Linked DNA regions of Homo sapiens. The protein of the gene in region 1 interacts with the protein of each later gene in a biochemical or structural test. Each region holds a gene or a part of one and is shown in the gene's direction. Other genes may lie near its edges.

The links.
Region 2: of the proteins of USP15 (region 1) and CSNK1A1, one has a biochemical effect on the other in vitro, tested with the Homo sapiens proteins (one study listed by BioGRID).

The regions. Positions count from the first base shown.
Region 1 is NC_000012.12:62,410,208-62,413,946, forward strand, and holds part of USP15 (ubiquitin carboxyl-terminal hydrolase 15), read left to right. Parts: 3' UTR 1-3,739. UniProt on the Homo sapiens protein: Hydrolase that removes conjugated ubiquitin from target proteins and regulates various pathways such as the TGF-beta receptor signaling, NF-kappa-B and RNF41/NRDP1-PRKN pathways.
Region 2 is NC_000005.10:149,509,574-149,513,569, reverse strand, and holds part of CSNK1A1 (casein kinase I isoform alpha), read left to right. Parts: intron 1-360; coding exon 361-500; intron 501-1,697; coding exon 1,698-1,776; intron 1,777-3,616; coding exon 3,617-3,691; intron 3,692-3,996.

The DNA.
Region 1 (3,739 bases):
ATTTCCCCAAAAAGACCGCGACCTCCAGCCAGTCATTCAGTTCTTGAACTCCCTAATAGAAGCACCAAGGATTATCTATTTGTAATCACATTGTGGTGAATTATCAGTCTCCCAAGAATTATGTAAAGCAAATAGGAATTATTTTAGAGTTGCCCTTATTTTAAAAAACAAAAAAAAAGTAAAGATGGGAAAATTACTTATAGTATTTTTTTTTAATTTGAGAAAGAATTCCTGTAGGTCTCCCTTAAATAGTGACTTTGGTAAAGCTTTTTAATTTCTAGAACTCAGAGCTATATTCACTTTTGAGCTATGTACCTATTGTATAAGTTGAAGTAATACTGCAAATTCAAACAGTAAACATCATTAATCCTAGATATTTGGGTACTACCTACAGTGAGATATGGTAGGAAACATTCTACACTTACAACAACTTCCACCATAGCTAGCTCCAAACAGGTCATTAACCTCTGAATTACTGTTTTCACAACCATAAAATTATGCTGGTCTCTTGAAAGTATTAGTTTATGGGTGTGGAGAGGAAGGCTTAAATTTCATTTTTGAAGCTGTCGTTAAAAGTATATATTTTTAGCAAAGGAATTAATAACTAATAGCATTGATGAGTCAAGTTAATATTTGTTTTTGTTTTTTTTTTTTTTTAATTTTGGGCCTCACTCCTATAAAAGACTTGGAACAGAAGTCTTAGTATGATGGTAAACTTGAAAATTAAAATTTTATCAGGGATATTAGAATCCAATTATATGAGACTGCATCCTCAACAGGCACCTTGGTTGCAACACCATGAAAGACCTTGATCCAGAGGTTCTCAGCAAGCCACACCTGAATTCCTAACCCACAAAAACTGTGAGATAACAGATGTTTGTGTTTTTAGCTGCTAAGCTTTAATTTGTTTATGCAGAAATAAGGGAAAAGGACCCTAGAGATCCTTGAGGAATCCCACTTTACAGATGTAGAAGCTGAGGGCTAGAAGGAGAAAAGTCATGTACACAAAGTCTGGAGACAACTCAGATAGTCACTACATCCTCTTGCTCTTTCTCATTTTTACTCTTTAACTGGCTCCTCACTTTTTAGATGGATGGCACTGGGCTCTGGAGCAAACCATCTGTTCTGTATCTGTTAAGGCCTCTAGAGCTTCATTCATTCCTTCATCAAATATTTTTTGAGTGTCCACTATGTGCCAGGCACTATTCTAGATTCAAGATATAAAGTAATATACAAAAACAAAATCCAGTTACAAATATAATTTTTAAAGCTATTTGTGAGCATAACTTCGTAACACATTTAGAACCTTTGCCTTCAGCTGACATGAATTATGTTGTCTTTTTGTTTTTTGGTCCAGTTTCATTAGTCATTAAAGTCATTTGAATTAAAGACAATAATCCAGACTCCAGAGGTTATGGCTTTTATGTGTTTGGATACTGTCATAGTCTGCTCAGGCTGCCATAACAAACACAGACTGGGTGGCTTAAATAACAGAAATTTATATTTTCACAGTTCTGGAGGCTGGGAATCTGAGATCAGGGTACCAGTATACTGGGTTTCTGGTGAGGGTGCCTTTCCTGGCTTACAGATGGCTGCCTTCTCACTGTGTTCTTGCATGGTAGCAGAGGAGGGTCAGAGAGGAGAGCAAGCTCTGAGGCATCTCTTTTTTATAAGGGCACTAATCCCGTCATGAAGCCCTCACCCTCATGACCTCATCTAAACCTAATTATCTCCTAAAGACTTCCTCTCCAAATACTATTTAAGGCTTCAACCTGAATTTGGAGGTGACACAGTTGAGCCCATAGCAGATATATTTAGTAACAACTGTGGGTACAGGCATGCCTCAGATATTGCAGGTTCGGTTCCCAGCCACCATAAATATTTAAATAAAGTGAGTCACAAATTTTTTGGTTTCCCAGTGCATATAAAAGGCATATTTACCCTATACTGTAGTCTATTAACTGCAATAACATTGTGCCTAAAAAAGATGTACATGCCTTAATTTTCAAACTATTGCCAAAAAATGCTAAATAACCATCAGAGCCTTCAGCAAGTAGTAATGTTTTTGCTGATGGACAGTCTTGCCTCATTTTGATAGATACTCACCAGGATGGTGGTTGCTGAAGGTTAGGGTGGCCGTGGCAATTTTTTACAATAAGACAGTAGTGAAGTTTGCTTCATCAATTGACTCTTCCTTTTACAAGAGATTTCTCTGGCATGCAGTGCTATTTGATAATATTTGATACCCACAGTAGAACTTCTTTCCGAACTTCTTTCACAATTGGAGTTAATCTTCTAAAGCCCCGCCACTGCTTCATCAACTAAGTTTATGGAATATTCTAAATCCTTTGTTGTCTTTTCAACAATGTTCACAGCATCTTCACCAGGAGAAGACTTTCCCCCCTTCTTTTCACAGATGTTGAGATTGTCAAGAAACTACTTTCCTTGCCCACCCATAAGAAGCAACTTATCATCTGTTCAAGTTTTATCATAAGATTGCAGCAATCCAGACACATCTTCAGGCTCCACTTGTAGTTCTCTTGCTATTTTCACCGCATCTGCAGTTACTGCCGCCACTGAGGTTTTGAACTTCTCAAAGTCATGAAAGTTGTAATTAACTTCTTTCAAACTCTTGTTAATGTTGATATTTTGACTCCCATGAATCACAAATATTCTGAATGAATGGCATCCAGAATAGCAAATCCTTTTCAGAAGGTTTTTATTTTGCCCAGATCCATCAGAGGAATCACTATCTATGAAAGCTTTTGCCTTATAAAATGTATTTCTTGGATGATAAGACTTGAAAGCTGAAGTTATTCTTTGATCTATGGCTGCAGAATGGATGTTGTGTTAGCAGGCAGAAAAACACTAATCTCATACATCTCCATAGAGCTCTTGGGTGACCAGGTGCACTTGTCAATGAGCAGTAATATTTTGAAAGGAATCTTTTTCTGAGCAATAGATCTCCGCAGTGGGCTTAAAATATTTAGTAAACCTTCCTATAAACGGATGTGCTACCATCCAGGCTTTATGGTTCCTTTTATAGAGCAAAAACATTATATTTAGTTTAATTTTAAGGACCCTAGGATTTTTGGAATGATAAATGAACATTAGTTAGCATTGCATTGGCCCCTAACAAGAAATCAGTCTCTCGTTTGAAGCCAAGCATCAACTTTTCTCTAGCTATGAAAGTCCTGGATGACATCTTCCAACATAAGACTTTCATCTACATTGAAAGTTTGTTTTTAGTGTAACTACCTTCATCAATGATCTTAGCTAGATCTTCTGGATAACTTGCTGTAGTTTCTACTTTAGCAGTTGCTGCTTCACCTTATGCTTGTCTGTTGTGGAGACAGCTTGTTTCCTTAAACTCCATGAATCAACCACTGCTAGCTTCAGACTTTTCTTCTGCAGCTTCCTTACCTTAGCCTCCATAGAATTGAAGAGAGAGGGCCTTGCTCTGCGTTAGGCTTTGGCTTAAGATAGTGTTGTGGCTGATTTGATCTATTAAAAAAAAAAAAACTCAGGCTTTCTCTATACCACTTTTCTTATGATTCATGTGTTCACTTGAGTAGCACTTTTAATTTCAGGAACTCTTCCTTTGGATATACAACTTGGCTGTTTGGCTCAAGAGGCCTAGCTTTCAGCTTGCCTTGGCTTTCAACATGCTTTCCTCACTAAGCTCCAATCATTTATAGCATTTGATTGAGAGAGAGAGAGAGATGTACAGCTCTTCACC
Region 2 (3,996 bases), on another chromosome or scaffold:
GTGTACAGACTATCAGGTGTCATTATGACAGATAGCACACTTGTTGCTTCTGCTGTCAAGCATGTATACATTTCTTTCTTTATAAAGACAGGTTCCTGAGTATGTAATGAAATGGGCCTGTGAAATCTGCAAACGACAAGGATAAACTACTAGACTTTTTTTTTTTAACTTGATTTATTGATGAAGACTAGTAAAAGCTTATGGGGGGGTGTTAAGTCTGTTCATTATCTGTTCTATTAATACTTAGGATACTTTATTTTGATATATTTGAATGCATAGAATAGATACCATTTAATGAATAAGACGCAGTTTAATTGAACAAGGTTGGAAACCTAATGTTTCTGTATTTCTCTTTTAAAGTTATTCCTTATTGATTTTGGTTTGGCCAAAAAGTACAGAGACAACAGGACAAGGCAACACATACCATACAGAGAAGATAAAAACCTCACTGGCACTGCCCGATATGCTAGCATCAATGCACATCTTGGTATTGAGCAGAGGTAAGTTCGAAAATGGAATGTGCTTATCATAGCCATAGCAGAAGCCATCAATGGGTTTTTGAAATATTTTAGTTTCTTACAATGTCTAAGGATGTTTCTTGGCTGAGGATTTGAAGGATGCTTATTAATCATTTTACCTGCTGCTTTAACCAGTGTAGAGAAGACCGTTAAATGAGGTCTTCTGGATTTTTTGTTGTTGTTGAAGGTTGTCTCTTGGGGGGAAAATACTGCGTGATAGAAAGTTAGAAGCATAAGTGCAATGTTGACGTTTCTTTTTGCAGCTGAAGATAGTACATATATTTTTAGAGCTATTTGGGGCTTTTTATACTTTAGTAATTCACGCTGAGTTTGGGAAGAATGCATTATTTATTTTTAAAAGGAAAATGTTATCAGTGTCCTAATAAACCAAAAGTGGGTTGATGGACCATCTCCTGTTATACTTCACTCAAATATATAAATTAATAGGATCTAGTTTAAAGTAAAAAAAGTAACAGTCTCTGCTCTCTTCCTATTTCTTCACATGAGTTCTAGAGTTTCGAGTTCCTTTCATCTTTTACAGTCACTTTTTGCTCCTTAAAACTAGCATAGAAGTAATAAGTAGAAAAAACAATGATATGCCTCCAGGTTAAAGAACCTCATACCAAGAATTTCAGGCTTAAGAAATATCCATGAATATCTGAATGATCTAGGTTAAACTGTAATGTCACTTTTTCTGTACGCCAAGGCATTACCTATCCTTAAATATATATATATCTAAATATATATTTGTATGTATGTGTATATAGATATGTATGCATGAATACATTCATATAGATGTTCAATTAGTTTTAAGTTGTAACTCCTTTTCAGTACTTCTGAAGTTTTTTTTTAATGAGTTTCTGCAAAACATAGAAATGTCATCCTGCTTGGTTCATTAAGCTCATTTAGAGGGTTGTTTAGCCAAATCGTTTCTGTTCTTTTAAAATTAAATTGTAAGACAGTTGTTTGTCAGATTTTGGATTCCATGGAAAAAGTTTTGTTTAGAGGTAGGTAACACATGAACTTTTTAAAATCACCTTAAATAAGTAGCTTCTTGCGTAAGACACCAAATAGTGTTCCCTCCTCATTTGGGAACATTTCTTCTGGGTACTTGACTTTCTTTCATATGTTTTTTCATAATAATAGTTCCAGTTTATAAAATTACGTTCTCTTTTCTAGTCGCCGAGATGACATGGAATCATTAGGATATGTTTTGATGTATTTTAATAGAACCAGCCTGCCATGGCAAGGGCTAAAGGTAAACCAGACTCACATTATCAGATTTTTCTCTCTCTTTTTTAGAATAAAAATATATATTGGAGAAGATAAGATTTAAGGTCCCTTCTAAGTCTGAGATTTTTCTGAGATATAAAGAATTAACCTTAATTTACTTTTTACCTTTTATCTGGGAAAATGAAACCAGATCATTTTAGTAAGAACTTAGTTCAGCTGAAGAACAGTGTCCTCTAAGAGACAGTAAGCTGGTACCCACTGGTAGCCACTAGCTCTATCTAGATGGAAGTGGGCATGGACTAAGAAAGGTGGAGACTTTCTCATTTTGATGTGTTGCCATTATGTTGAAAATGTATGTTTTTATGTACAGCAAGACCTGTTTATCCAGCAATACATGTCCTAACATTTTGTTTCTATTAGCTAGGAGTTTACTGTTACTTTTGTGAGTGTATGTTAATGATAAATCACCGTATCCTAATTTTGGGTGGGGGTGGGGGCATGGGGAATGGTCTTGCTCTGTTGCCCAAGCCGGAATGCCTGGCTCACTGCAGCCTGAACCTCCTGGGCTCAAGCAGTCCTCCTATCTCAGCCTCCTACCTGTAGCTGGGACTACAGGAACATGCCACCATGCCCAGCTAATTTTTAAATTATTTTTTGTAGAGACAGTGCCTCACTGTGTTGCCCAGACTGGTCTCAAACTCTTGGGCTCAAGTGATTCTCCTGCTTCAGCATCCCAAAGAACTGGGATTACAGGTGTGAGTCACCACTGTTGGTGTGTCCTAAATTTTAATGGCTATTTTGGTACCTTACCAGTTCTTTGAAGGAATACCTGTATTTATTGAGTGGCTGTGAGCTAGTTGTAGTGCTCAGTCCTTGGGTGGGTAGCTTTATCTAATATGAGTATTTTTAGTTTAGAAAAATATTGTGACTTATACAGTTAACTCCATTTATTAATGTCACTAATTGATGAACAAATTTTTTTGTATTAATCTGATGCCTTTGCCCTTGTGTTGAACATGGGTTAAGAAAATGCTTTTCAGGCTGAGCATGGTGGCTCATGCCTATAATCTTCAACACTTTGGGAGGCCCAGCCAGGCGGATCACTTGAGCCCAGGAGTTCAAGACCAGCCTGGTCAGTATGGCAAGACCTCACCTCTACTTTAAAAAAAAAAAATAGCAGGGTGTAGTGTCACATGCCTGTAGCCCCAATTACTCAGGAGGCTGAGCCGGGAGGATTGCTTTGAGCCCAGGAGTTCGAGGCTACAGCGAGCTATAATCGAGCCACTGCACTCCAGCCTGGGCAACCGAGGGAGACCTTGTCTCAAAAAAACAAACAAACAAACAAAAAAACAAAGAAAAGGAAAAAGGAAAGAAAATGCTTTTCAGCTGGGTATGATGATGCACACCTGTAGTCCCAGCTACTTGATAGGCTGAATCAGGAGGATTGCTTGAGGCCAGGAGTTGGAGGCCACAGGGAATTACTGCTGAGCCTGTGAATGGCTACTGCACTCCAGCCTGGGCAACATAGTGAGACCCCATCTCCTTAAAAAAATATATAGAAAGAAAGAAAATGCTTTTCAATTTTGGCCCCAGCCATTTTTACTTAAATCTAATATCCATATATTCCTATTAGACTCACCCTTTCCCTATAGCTAAAATTAAATTCTTAGAGAAGAAACTTACATCAGAAGTTAACAGTTTGGGAAAAATTTTTTTTAGATGTATTATACTTTGATTTTTTAAATTCTGGGTTAAAATTTCTCTTGAATCTCACAGGTATATGTTTATATGTCTAGTGCGTTAAACTACCATGGTTCTTCTCAGTAGCACTGAGTATATCTTTTTTATTTTATTCTTTTCCACAGGCTGCAACAAAGAAACAAAAATATGAAAAGATTAGTGAAAAGAAGATGTCCACGCCTGTTGAAGTTTTATGTAAGGTAAGTATGCATGATGAATATTAAAAAAATATAAATGAAGCCAGGCACAATGGCTCACACCTGTAATCCCAGCACTTTGGGAGGCCAAGGCAGTAGGTCACATGAGCCCAGGAGTTCAAGACCAGCCTGGGCAACATAGGGAAACCCCATTTCTACCTTAATAGATAAATGATCCGGCTGGGCACAGTGGCTCAAGCCTGCAATCCCAGCACTTTAGAAGGCCGAGGTGGGCGGATCACTTGAGCCCAGAAGTTCCACAAGACCAGCCTGGGCAACATGGTGAAATACCTTATCTACCAAAAATA